3 linked regions of the Homo sapiens genome follow. The protein of the gene in region 1 purifies or fractionates together with the protein of each later gene. This does not show direct contact. Each region holds a gene or a part of one and is shown on either strand. Other genes may lie near its edges.

Region 1 (4,321 bases):
AATAACCAAAGAAAGAAAGAAAGAAACTAGAAGAAAGAAACTAAAATAATCCATGTATCCATTAACAGAATATACAAACAAACTGTGGAGTAAGACATACTCCGGAACATAAGTCAGCAATAAAAAAAGACCAAATCATGGATACGACATGGATGAATCTCAAAAATATGGTGAGCTTTACACAATATTGCAGAATTCCATTTACATGAAGTTCAAGAACAAGCCAAACTCACCTATGATGAGATACAGGGCAGTGGTTGCCACTGAGAGGGTGAGGGCAGAGAATGACTGAGAATGAGGATGAAGGCACCTGCTGGGGTGACAGTAATATTCTCTGTCTTGATAAGGACTAGGGTTACACAGGTGCATGCATCTGTCAAAACATTATGCAAATGGTACTTTCCATCTTTGCACATTTCACTATATGTATATAAATTTTATCTTAAGGAAACCATAAGCACATATTGAAGTCAAAATAATAAAATGTGTACTAAAATGTTTAGGAATGACCTGTACCAACATCTGTAATTTACTTTAAAGTGCATAAAACCATCAGCTGGACTTATGGATGGACACAGGGATGGCTGGATGGTTGGGGGAGGTGTGTAGTTAAGCAAAGATGGCAAAATGTGAATTAGACTCTAGGTGTGTATATTTAGGGGGTCACTGTTCTTGCAACTTTTCTATATCTTAAAAAATGGGATGGGGATAGAGTCACAGTGTCCTCTCCTTAGTCCACCAAGTTAGAAATTTGGCAAAGCACCATGCCCCACCAAGCCATGGGACCACATAGTTTCAATTCTGCTGAAAAGAGAAGACTGGAAGAACATAAGTAGCTTTACAGGAACTCACATCACTCATGCCAAAGATTTTCTGCTTGTTTCCCTACAGACAAAGCAATTATTTGAATGTAAGCCAAAAATTCCTGCTCAAGAGGGAGAAAAAGAACTCACTGACTTGTATTCCCAATTTATTATCTTTCAATTCCTGTACCAAATCTACTAGCTAACTGCACAACACTCCACTTCCATTTGCCCCATGTCCATACAGCCAAAAAGCAAACAAAGAAAAACCAACCCAGTGACTTGATATACAAATGCAGCCAGAGGATGACGTGCCAGCTCTGGGGCTTTGAATCACTCAGGCGGGCCAGAAACCCCACTGAAGGCAAAAGAGGATGCAGAGCTCAGTCTGAGGTTAGAGTGATTTCACTGAGGTTAGCACACACGCACCAAAGAGTCCCAAACAGCTTGCTTCGTAACCCCTCTCTGGGGTTTGGTGACATCTGGGGTCACTTGAACTTCGTTGGGATTCAGCTGTTCAGAGATACAAATTAGGAATCCCGGCAGCAGAGAGGCCCTACCCACAGGCCCAGAGGTCGCTCACATTACACCCGGCTTCCTTCCTGGCAAGGCCTTAACTTATCCTGAGATGACACACGATGGCAGGGGTTGGAAGATGCCTAGTCTAGTTGAGCGCCCAGCTCCTGAAACAGCTGTACCGACTACAAGGGTTCCAGCACATGAGTTGCTGGAAACTGGGGTGACCACTGACAGAGATTGAGCCAGACTTTTTTTTTAAAAAAGTACTTCTTGTTTGTTTGTTTTAAGCCCCCGAAGAAACTCACTGACACCACCCAGCGTCCCTAGGGATCACCCATAACCACACAGGGCAGCTGAGGGCAAGCACAGAGTCACAGACAGACAGCAGGGAGCGTGCCTGGTTCTACAACCTTGGCCTCCACGCGGTTCTTGCTGCCAAAGGCAGCGACACCGGAGGTGAAGGGCACCAGCCCTGGCCTAGGACTGGGGTGCGCGTGCCTGACAACGGGGCTTCCCGAAATACACAACCACCTCCTCCTCGCCCAGACCCATATCCATCCTGGCGTCCCTTGAGTCTAGAGAAGTGGGTTAAGACAAGGGAAGAAAATCCCTTACAGAAGAGGAGATCCCCGTTTTCAGTGCTGGGGACTCTCGGCACCCGCGTCCCTGTGCTTCTGGTGGTTCCGGCGCTTCCTCGGAGCGCGCGGCATGTCTGCTCCTACACGTCCAGCACCTCTGTCCCCAGAGCAAACCCACCTCCCAGGGCACACGCAGAGGGGCAGTCAGGCACCGCCTCCACCCTGCCCCACCCAGGCCGCGCGCACCCCGGAAACCTGGACTCCGCGACCAGCTCCCTCCTGTTCTTTTCCGAGGACCCCAGCGGCAGTGTGTCCTGGACCCACCTGTAGCCTCCAAGCTCCCCCACCTCTGCGTCCTTCCTAGGCGCTTCTGAGCCTGCAGAGCCTACGACCCCCAACAGGCTGCTCCGAAGTGCCTCTCCCTACATCGCTCCAGGAATGACTCCCCTACACCCGTTCCCCGCAAAAAAAAGTTGGCCCAAGATCCAGGCGTCCCAAGGATCAGCCCAGGTCCCCATCCGACGCGGGCCAGGGGGTGCTGCTCTGGCAGCTCCGGAGCCCCGGCAAAGAGCAACCTGCAGGGAGGCGCCACGCGCGGTTCCCACTACCCGCCAGAGACCCGGTCCATGGGGCCAAACGGAGGGGCCTGTGCCGGTCGACACCCCAAGCCCTGTCGCGCCCCCCCCGCCGCCTACCGTATGGGACCGGCGGAGGAGAAGGCGCGGTCGCGGGCTCCCTGAGGCAGCGTGTTCCGTCCCGGGAGGAAAGTTTGTGCCATACAGAGGAGGCGGCGCGGGGAGGACTTGGGCGCCGGTGGGTGGAGGCGTGGGCGGTGGCGCCGCGTGGTCGTGTGTCTGTCCCTCCGGCGATCGGTGCGTCTGTCCCTCGCCGGAGCCCGCGGCCGCCGCGCTCTCGCTCGCTGCGCCCAGCGCCCGGCGCGCTCCGGCTCCAGCCCCGACGCGCCCCCGCCGCCGCCGCCGCGCGTCCGCCGGCTACACTTCCTCTTCCTCTGAACTCATGTGCAAAATATGCTACGCTGCATCTTCAGGGAAAGCCTCGCGGCCCCTGACAGCAGCCGCTGGAGCGGTGGGCCCGCCCAGCTCTCCCCGCGCCCCCTCGGAGTTCCGCCCGGTCACCTCCACGCGGCCGAGCTGCAAGCGACCCTGGCAGCCTCAGAACCCAGGGGTCAGGGGCTCATCGATCCTCCCTCCCAGCCCCTCCTAATCAAGGTTGTGTGCTGTCAGGAAGAGCGCCTGGGAGACAAGGATCCTTCAAGATTTGAGCCAGGATGCTGAAAGGGCGACTGCCATCAAGGTGCTGATGGCTGGGGGTGGGGTTGGGGCCGACTTGAGAGAGGACCATTTCTCGACCCCATTCCACAGGTGGGAGCATCCCTAAACATCTCAGGTGCTGCTGAAATTCTCTCTTGCGAGTTAGTGCTTCAGGGAAGGGTAATGCCACTGTCTCCGTTGCCATCCCTTGGTCTACCTACTTAAGATGTCCAGAGGTTTGAGAAGATCTGGAGAATCACCTTGCGTGGCAACTTGAGGCACCCAGGGAGAAAATTATATAAAGAGTGAAGCACTAGTAAACCAGGCTGCATTAGTAAAGTGAAGATGTGAGGCAAGGAGCCATTAGAAAATATTTTCTTCGTAAAACTAAACCAAGCAGAATTACAGTGTAGGGGTTAAGAGGGGGAACTTTAAAGTCAAATAATCAGGGTTGGATTCCTGGCTTTAGTACTTACTGGCTGTGTGACTTTGGGTAAGTGACTTAACTGCTCTGCGCCTATTTGTCACATGGCACTTCTTCGTGGGTTATTATATGTAAAGTGTTTAGCAACCACTCTATAACTTAGCTATTATCATTATTTTAAGGGGGCTAGAACAAGAAGGGTGAGATAATTTAATTAATTATCTCCATTTTCTAATTGGGCAAAGAAGACCCTGTGTGGGCAAAGTTAAGCACTGGAGCACACAGGGTGGAGGGCTGGTTTAGGGGCCCAGCAGTGTTTCGATGAGGTCCTTCTGGCACTAATAACACTCCTCCAGCAAGTAAGGAAGCACTATTTTGTTTTCAGGGACTCTTCCTGTTACCACAGCTTCTCAGAGATTTTCTTCCTTATTTTCTCTTTCCATAGCCTTTCTAGTTCTGTTTTGCTCCCCCTCCCTCACCACTGTTTTGTTTTTATTTGTTTTTCTCCTTTCCCTTTCCACCCCACCTTTTCCTGGTGTCACACTCACCACCACTATCCCCAGTGTCCCCCATTTCCCCCCTACACTTGAGCTTGCCACATGAAAGAAAATAAGACCAGGTGACCACGTAAGTCCAGGTTCAGACAGTAGTGCGCAGGGACATTTGCTCAGGGGCATCACCAGAGGTTGTGAACACCCATTTATGAAGCCAAAGGGAGGGGTCTTC
Region 2 (2,666 bases), on another chromosome or scaffold:
GACAGATTCCTTAAGGAAAGACTGTGCTCTGGGAGGGGGCAGGTAGCGTCATTTTGGGGTGTAAAGGCATGGAATGCTGATTTGTAGGCAAAGTTGTTTAAGGAGGTCCTGTCACATTCAGTGGCATCCGTTATGATAAAGCCAATAGGCTTTTACACTCATCTGTCCATTTCTGTCAAGACCCTATGGCTGAGGTCAAAACAATGTTCTGGGAGAACCAGTTACCTCTAACCTTCCAATTCAGACACTGCCAGCTTAACTATGTAGAAACTGGCACACAGACCCTGTTAAGTGCTGCAACAATGACAGCGTTTCTATGAATTTGTTGGTACATGTGGGACTTTAGCTCATCTGAGGAGTCGAACAGCAGCTGTGAAAGTCTTCTACTCACTCCCTGTCGAGGCTGGCCTGGTTTGCTACACAAACACGGTGGCCCTAGGACCATGGGGCTATTCCTGCAGACGCCCTCGGGAACCAGCTGCTCTGAACGTGGTGGGGGTGTTGGAGCAGCAGTTTCTCAAAAGTCCACACACAGTTAAAGCTCTGAAAACAGCACGACGCACAGAAATGATTTCAGATGCTTTTCAGTAGCCACTTTCATGCCAACTCTTTATTTCCATAATAGAAAATCTTTTATTTCCACCTTTAGTGTTCCCTGCTAGAATAGATGACCACAAAACCCAGGCCAGAAACGTTCTGGTCTGCCGTGAACAGTCCAGGAGGCACTTGTTCTGCTGCTGTGGAAGTCGCCCTGACTCGGGGAGGAAGGGACACGCAGGTGGTATCAGTCTTGCTCAAGTAAACAGGCTGTTTTCCAAACATTGTGACTTGGCTACTGAGTGGGGATACCTGGTTTCATTGGCAATCTTCCAGTATCTCTCTCGCAAAAGGAACGCTGCACTTTTTGGTTGTCTCTGCCGAGTGAAGATCCCCTTTTTATTCCCCAGCACTCTCGTCGGTGCTACAAAAAAAAAAAAAAGACACAAAGCGATTCAGATGTCTTCTGATGGGTCAAGTTAGAACCAGTCTGGAGCTAAGGTAGGCACTAAATAGAAATGTCTTTTTTTTTCTTTTTTCTCCCTGTTGCCCAGGCTGGAATGCGGTGACACAATCATAGCTCACTGCAGCCTCAACCTCCTGGGCTCAGGCAATCCTCCTGCCTCAGCCTCTCCAGCACCACCATGCCCGGTAATCTTTTATTTTTATTTTTTAGTAAAGACAAGGTCTCATTATGTTGTCCAGGCTGGTCTCAAACTACTGGGCTCAAGCAATCTGCCCTCCTTAGCCTCCCTAAAGTGCTGGGATTATAAGCACAAGCCACCATGCTCAGCCAAATGTCCTCTTACAGTTTCAGGATGCTTGCTCTGAAGTGACAATTTATGGGTTGAAATATTTAAATACCACTGCTCTGCCCAAACACCCAGGTTCCCTGGTGTGTTAATTTCTAGTTTTCTAGTCTGTTAGGGGAAAAAAACCCAAAACAGTGGCCAGGTGTGGTGGCCAACGCCTGTAATCCCAGTGCTTTGGGAGGCTGAGGCAGGTGGATCACCTGAGGTCAGGAGTTCAAGATCAGCCTGGCCAACATGAGGAAACCCGCCTCTATTAAAAATACAAAAACTGGCTGGGCACATTGGCTCATGCCTGTAATCCCAGCACTCTGGGAGGACAAAGCAGGCGGATCACAAGGTCAGGAGATTAAGACCAGCCTGGACAATATGGTGAAACCTCATCTCTACTAAAAATACAAAAATTATACAGGCATGGTGGTGGGTGCCTGTGGTCCCAGCTACTCAGGAGGCTGGGGCAGGAGAATCGCTTGAACCCAGGACGCAGAGGTTGCAGTGAGCTGAGATTGTGCCACTGCACTCCAGCCTGGGCGACAGAGTGAGACTCCATCTCCAAAAAAAAAAAAAGCACTAAAAGTTTATCTTTTATTTGCAAACTAAGGTTTACATGCTGGGTACCCAGCTGTCTGGTAACTGGGTAGGCAGAGGGCTAGGGGTATCTGGGACAGTTACCCTTGAAAAGCCTTGGGCCTTTCTGAAGAGATAGCGCCTAGTGGGAGCCAGGGTCCTGACCAGCCACAGGTCCCTGCGTGGGACCTACTCATGGAGTTCAAAGTCCGCCGGGGCTGACGTCCAGCTTGGCAGCACCCACCACTGGTGGTCATTAGGCCTGAGCTGAGCCTGGTGGAGGAGCACAGCTGGCAACGACCTGTCAGGGCTGTGCTCTCAGGACATTCTCTGTCCCCAGTAAGACCACCACTAAATGGAAATGTTAAATGGAAAGGGGGCTTTCCCCACCAAAAGGTTCAAGACTGTTTCTTCCATAAGTGAACACAGGCATCGCCAAGTACTTCATCAAATGCAGCCCTTACGACACCAACAAGGAGGTGGCATTATCCCCACTGGACAGGCTTATGAAAAGCTTAGGTGACTTGCCCAACGTGATGCAGCTCATTTCTTTTTTCTTTTTAAGACCGAGTTTCAGCTGGCCATGGTGGCTCATGCCTGTAATCCCAGCACTTTGGGAGGCCCAGATGTGCGGATCACCTGAGGTCGGTAGTTCAAGCCCAGCCTGACCAACATGGAGAAACCCCGTCTCTACTAAAAATACAAAATTAGCCGGGTGTGGTGGCGCATGCCTGCAATCCCAGTTAATCGGGA
Region 3 (3,552 bases), on another chromosome or scaffold:
GGCAGGAGAATCCCTTGAACCCAGGAGGCAAAGTTTGCAGTGAGCTGAGATTGCATCACTGCACTCCAGCTTGGGTGACAAGAGCAAAACTCCATCTCAAAAAAAAAAAAGCTACAGAATATGAATATATTTCTATCTCTTCTATAGCATCTCTTCTAAGGACAATTATTTGTTTGAATTTATGCTGAGTCCTGAGGAAGCTGTCACAACTACACCAAAGTGTACTTCCAAATTGGATAGAAATTATTTGTGATTTCATATGAGTAAAGGAAGGCTCTCTTTTTCTCTCAGTTCTAGGAAGAGTTCATATCATCACCTAAGTAACCCTAATCTGATCACTTCTTTCTACCTTTCTGGTGTTTGATATCTTTATCCCAAATCTCTAAAGCCCCAACCTTCTTGCCCATTAGCCACAACTCTCAGAAATGGACCTCATAGGGCAGGGGACACAGCCTCTTTGTTCTGATGATAAAAGCAGGTGTTTACCCAGCACTGGTTGGTGCTGTTGGCATAGACTCTGAAAGCTCTCAAGCTGTCTGGGCTCACGTCCCAGGTCTCTCCCCAGCCCCCCACCCCCACCTGGTGTGTTGCCTGAACTGGAGCCACTCAACTCCCTGTGCCTCTATTTCCTCACCTCTGAAATGGCAATGCCAAGAGCACTGTTTTAGGGGGCTATTCTGAGCATTATATATGCTCATAGATGGGCCTGGCACAAAGTAAGTGCTCAGTAAATGTCAGCTACTATTATTTCCTTTTTTTGTTTTTTGTTTTTTGTTTTTAGACAACGTTTCACTCTTGTCACCCAGGCTGTAGTGCAATGGTAGGATTTTGGCTCACTGTAACCTCTGCCTCCTGGGTTCAAGCAATTCTCCTGCCTCAGCCTCCTGAGTAGCTGGGACCACAGACGTGTGCCACCATGCCAGGCTATTTTTGTATTATTAGTAGAGACAGGGTTTCACCATGTTGGCCGGGCTGGTCTCGAACTCCTGACCTTAGGTGATCTGCCTGCCTCAGCCTCCCAAAGTGCTGGGATTACAAGAGTGAGCCACCAAGCCCTGCCTTCTATTATTTTCTAATACCCTGTGTTCATCTCCTCATCCTCCTTCCTCTTAATTATCCACTTTGCCATTTCTATTCCTGTCCATCAATGCTTCCCCCAGTGTCTTTTCTGATCACCTGTGCCCCCTCCTCTCCTATTGCTGACACACAGCCTGGGCCATTTTCCTTACCAAGACCTCCCCCACCCCACATCCTTGAAACATCTGCCTATCTCTTTCTTGCCTCCTTTTGAAAATCTTCAGATCCCATGTAGCACCTTGGGCATTTTTGTACTTAGTAGCCCATCTTTTGACACCCACTCTATGATAATTTAACACCAGCAGTTCACCAGACCTGAGGTTGGCTGCCTTGGGGCTGGCAGTGTGGTTTAGGAGAAAGAGCACTGGGCCGGGGGCACAGGGACCATCTCTGCACGGGCTCTGCCACCAGCTCCTCTGACCATAGCGCAGGTGGCCCTTCCTGGGTCTGCATCGTATGGTAAGGAGGAACTTTAGGGCTCCAAGGAACTCTAACAGCCCACAGTTTTGAATCCAGCACTTCCTGAGCCCCCAGCATGGGCTACGGTGTGTGCTGGGTGCTTTTCTCTGTTGATTCCACAAATTTCAATTGAGCCAATATTGGCTGTACCCTGTGCTAGGTGATGGAGCTGCAAGGGAGATCAGGACAGACTGTGACATCCTTCATAGAACAGACATAGTTAAATATTACAGACTTGTTTGGAGGTAGGTCTCAGTGCTCCAATGTTTGCAGATTTCAACCAGATATTTTGGGAACGTTTCACTGTCAACAGCTAGGACTGGCAGAACCACCAGGTGAGCCCAGGTCTGAGTGACTTTGAGAGTGGCTCACTCTCCAGGCAACCTCCCTGGACAGGGGTGAGTCTGATGCCTTCTCACGGGGGTATCAGCCTCCGATGGGTGGGGTGTGGAGGTGAGAGGTCATAGGTGCCTGGATAGGAAGTGACTCTGCCATCACTTCCTGTGTGACCTGAGGCCTGGGATGAGGATGGGGCAATTGATGGGGAAGCGGGGAGCACCTGTGCTGTGGGGTGGGTGGGATGTGGACATGTCTGTGTTTCTGCTGTGTCTCCTGTTCTTCCCCTGGGATTGGGACTATTTCCATCCTGCTGATCCCTTGCCACTCACACTGGGGGGGCTGCCTCTTGGGTTAGACCTTCCACCCCTGTGGTCTGTTATTCACTGACCGTTACTGTCGTTGTAATACTCCACGATGTCTTTCAGGGTCTCCATAAAGATGTCCTCCCTGGCCTTCTGAAGTTGGCTGTCCTGCTTCCAATCCTCCATTCCTTCCACCTGTCTCCAGAGTCCCATGGGCTGAGACTTCCTGTCTTTACTGTTGTATCTAAAGAACTGGAGGTCATTGAGTGAGCCAAGGGCCTGAAACGCGGGGACGTCTTCAACATGCTTGGACAGCCCAGTGTAGATATAGGTCAGAGAGTAACGACCTGCAAAAGAAAAGATTCTGATGGTTGAGGTCCATGCAAGGGTCCCACTGTGGGGCTGCATAGGGCTAGGAGGGGAGACCTGCCACTGGCCTTTTCTTCCCCAGCTCTTTCTCCTGCCATCAACTTCACACCACTGGAGGCTCACTCAAGTGAATATGCTCTACTTTCATGCCTGAGATGATATTTCAGAGACCATCCTGTGTCTTCACTACATTATTTCCTCTGCTTGACACATAGGAAGATAACATTACTCAGCCACCTCGAAGATATATTGGGACCATGTGACTGAGTTTTGTCAAAAGAGAATGTGAGCAGAAGTGATGTCTTTCTTCTTGTCCAAGACCCTACCAGCTGGCTTGTCCCTTTTGTTTCTCATCCCTAGAGGTGACGACTTTGAAGGCCACAGGATAATATGAAAGAGTCTCAATATGCAATTGGCCTGGATCCCTGAGTCACCCCATGGAGGAATGGAACCTTGCCCAGTGTGCATGGAATCTGACATGCGTTAGAAATTAACATTTCTAGGCTGGGCTCCGTGGCTCATGCCTGTAATCCCAGGACTTTGGGAGGCCAAGGCAGGCAGATTACTTGAGATCAGGAGTTGAAGACCAGCCTGGCCAACATGGTGAAACCCCATCTCTATTAAAAAATACAAAAATTAGCTGGGCATGGTGGTGCGGGCCTGTAATCCCAGTCATGCTGGAGGCTGAGGCAGGAAAATCACTTGAACCAGAGAGGCAGAGGTTGCAACAAGCCAAGATCATGCCACTGCACTCCAGCTTGGATGACAGAGTGAGACTCCGTCTCAAAAAAAACAAATTAACATTTCGTCCGGGCTCAGTGGCTCACGCCTGTAATCCCAGCACTTTAGGGGGCCGAGGCGGGTGGATCACGAGGTCAGGAGATCGAGACCATCCTGGCTAACATGGTGAAACCCCGTCTCTACTAAGAATTCAAAAAATTAGCCAAGCATGGTGGCGGGTGCCTGTAGTCCCAGCTACTCAGGAGGCTGAGGCAGGAGAATGGCA

The links.
Region 2: the proteins of RFTN1 (region 1) and GUSB purify together in Homo sapiens (co-immunoprecipitation; one large-scale study listed by IntAct). This does not show direct contact.
Region 3: the proteins of RFTN1 (region 1) and AZGP1 purify together in Homo sapiens (co-immunoprecipitation; one large-scale study listed by IntAct). This does not show direct contact.

The regions. Positions count from the first base shown.
Region 1 is NC_000003.12:16,510,847-16,515,167, forward strand, and holds the start of RFTN1 (raftlin), read right to left. Parts: upstream 2,854-4,321; 5' UTR 2,596-2,853; exon of another isoform or gene 2,225-2,595; intron 2,071-2,224; exon of another isoform or gene 1,938-2,070; intron 1-1,937. UniProt on the Homo sapiens protein: Involved in protein trafficking via association with clathrin and AP2 complex.
Region 2 is NC_000007.14:65,960,103-65,962,768, forward strand, and holds the end of GUSB (beta-glucuronidase isoform 1 precursor), read right to left. Parts: intron 962-2,666; coding exon 795-961; 3' UTR 582-794; downstream 1-581. UniProt on the Homo sapiens protein: Plays an important role in the degradation of dermatan and keratan sulfates.
Region 3 is NC_000007.14:99,969,483-99,973,034, forward strand, and holds part of AZGP1 (zinc-alpha-2-glycoprotein precursor), read right to left. Parts: intron 2,525-3,552; coding exon 2,264-2,524; intron 1-2,263. UniProt on the Homo sapiens protein: Stimulates lipid degradation in adipocytes and causes the extensive fat losses associated with some advanced cancers. May bind polyunsaturated fatty acids.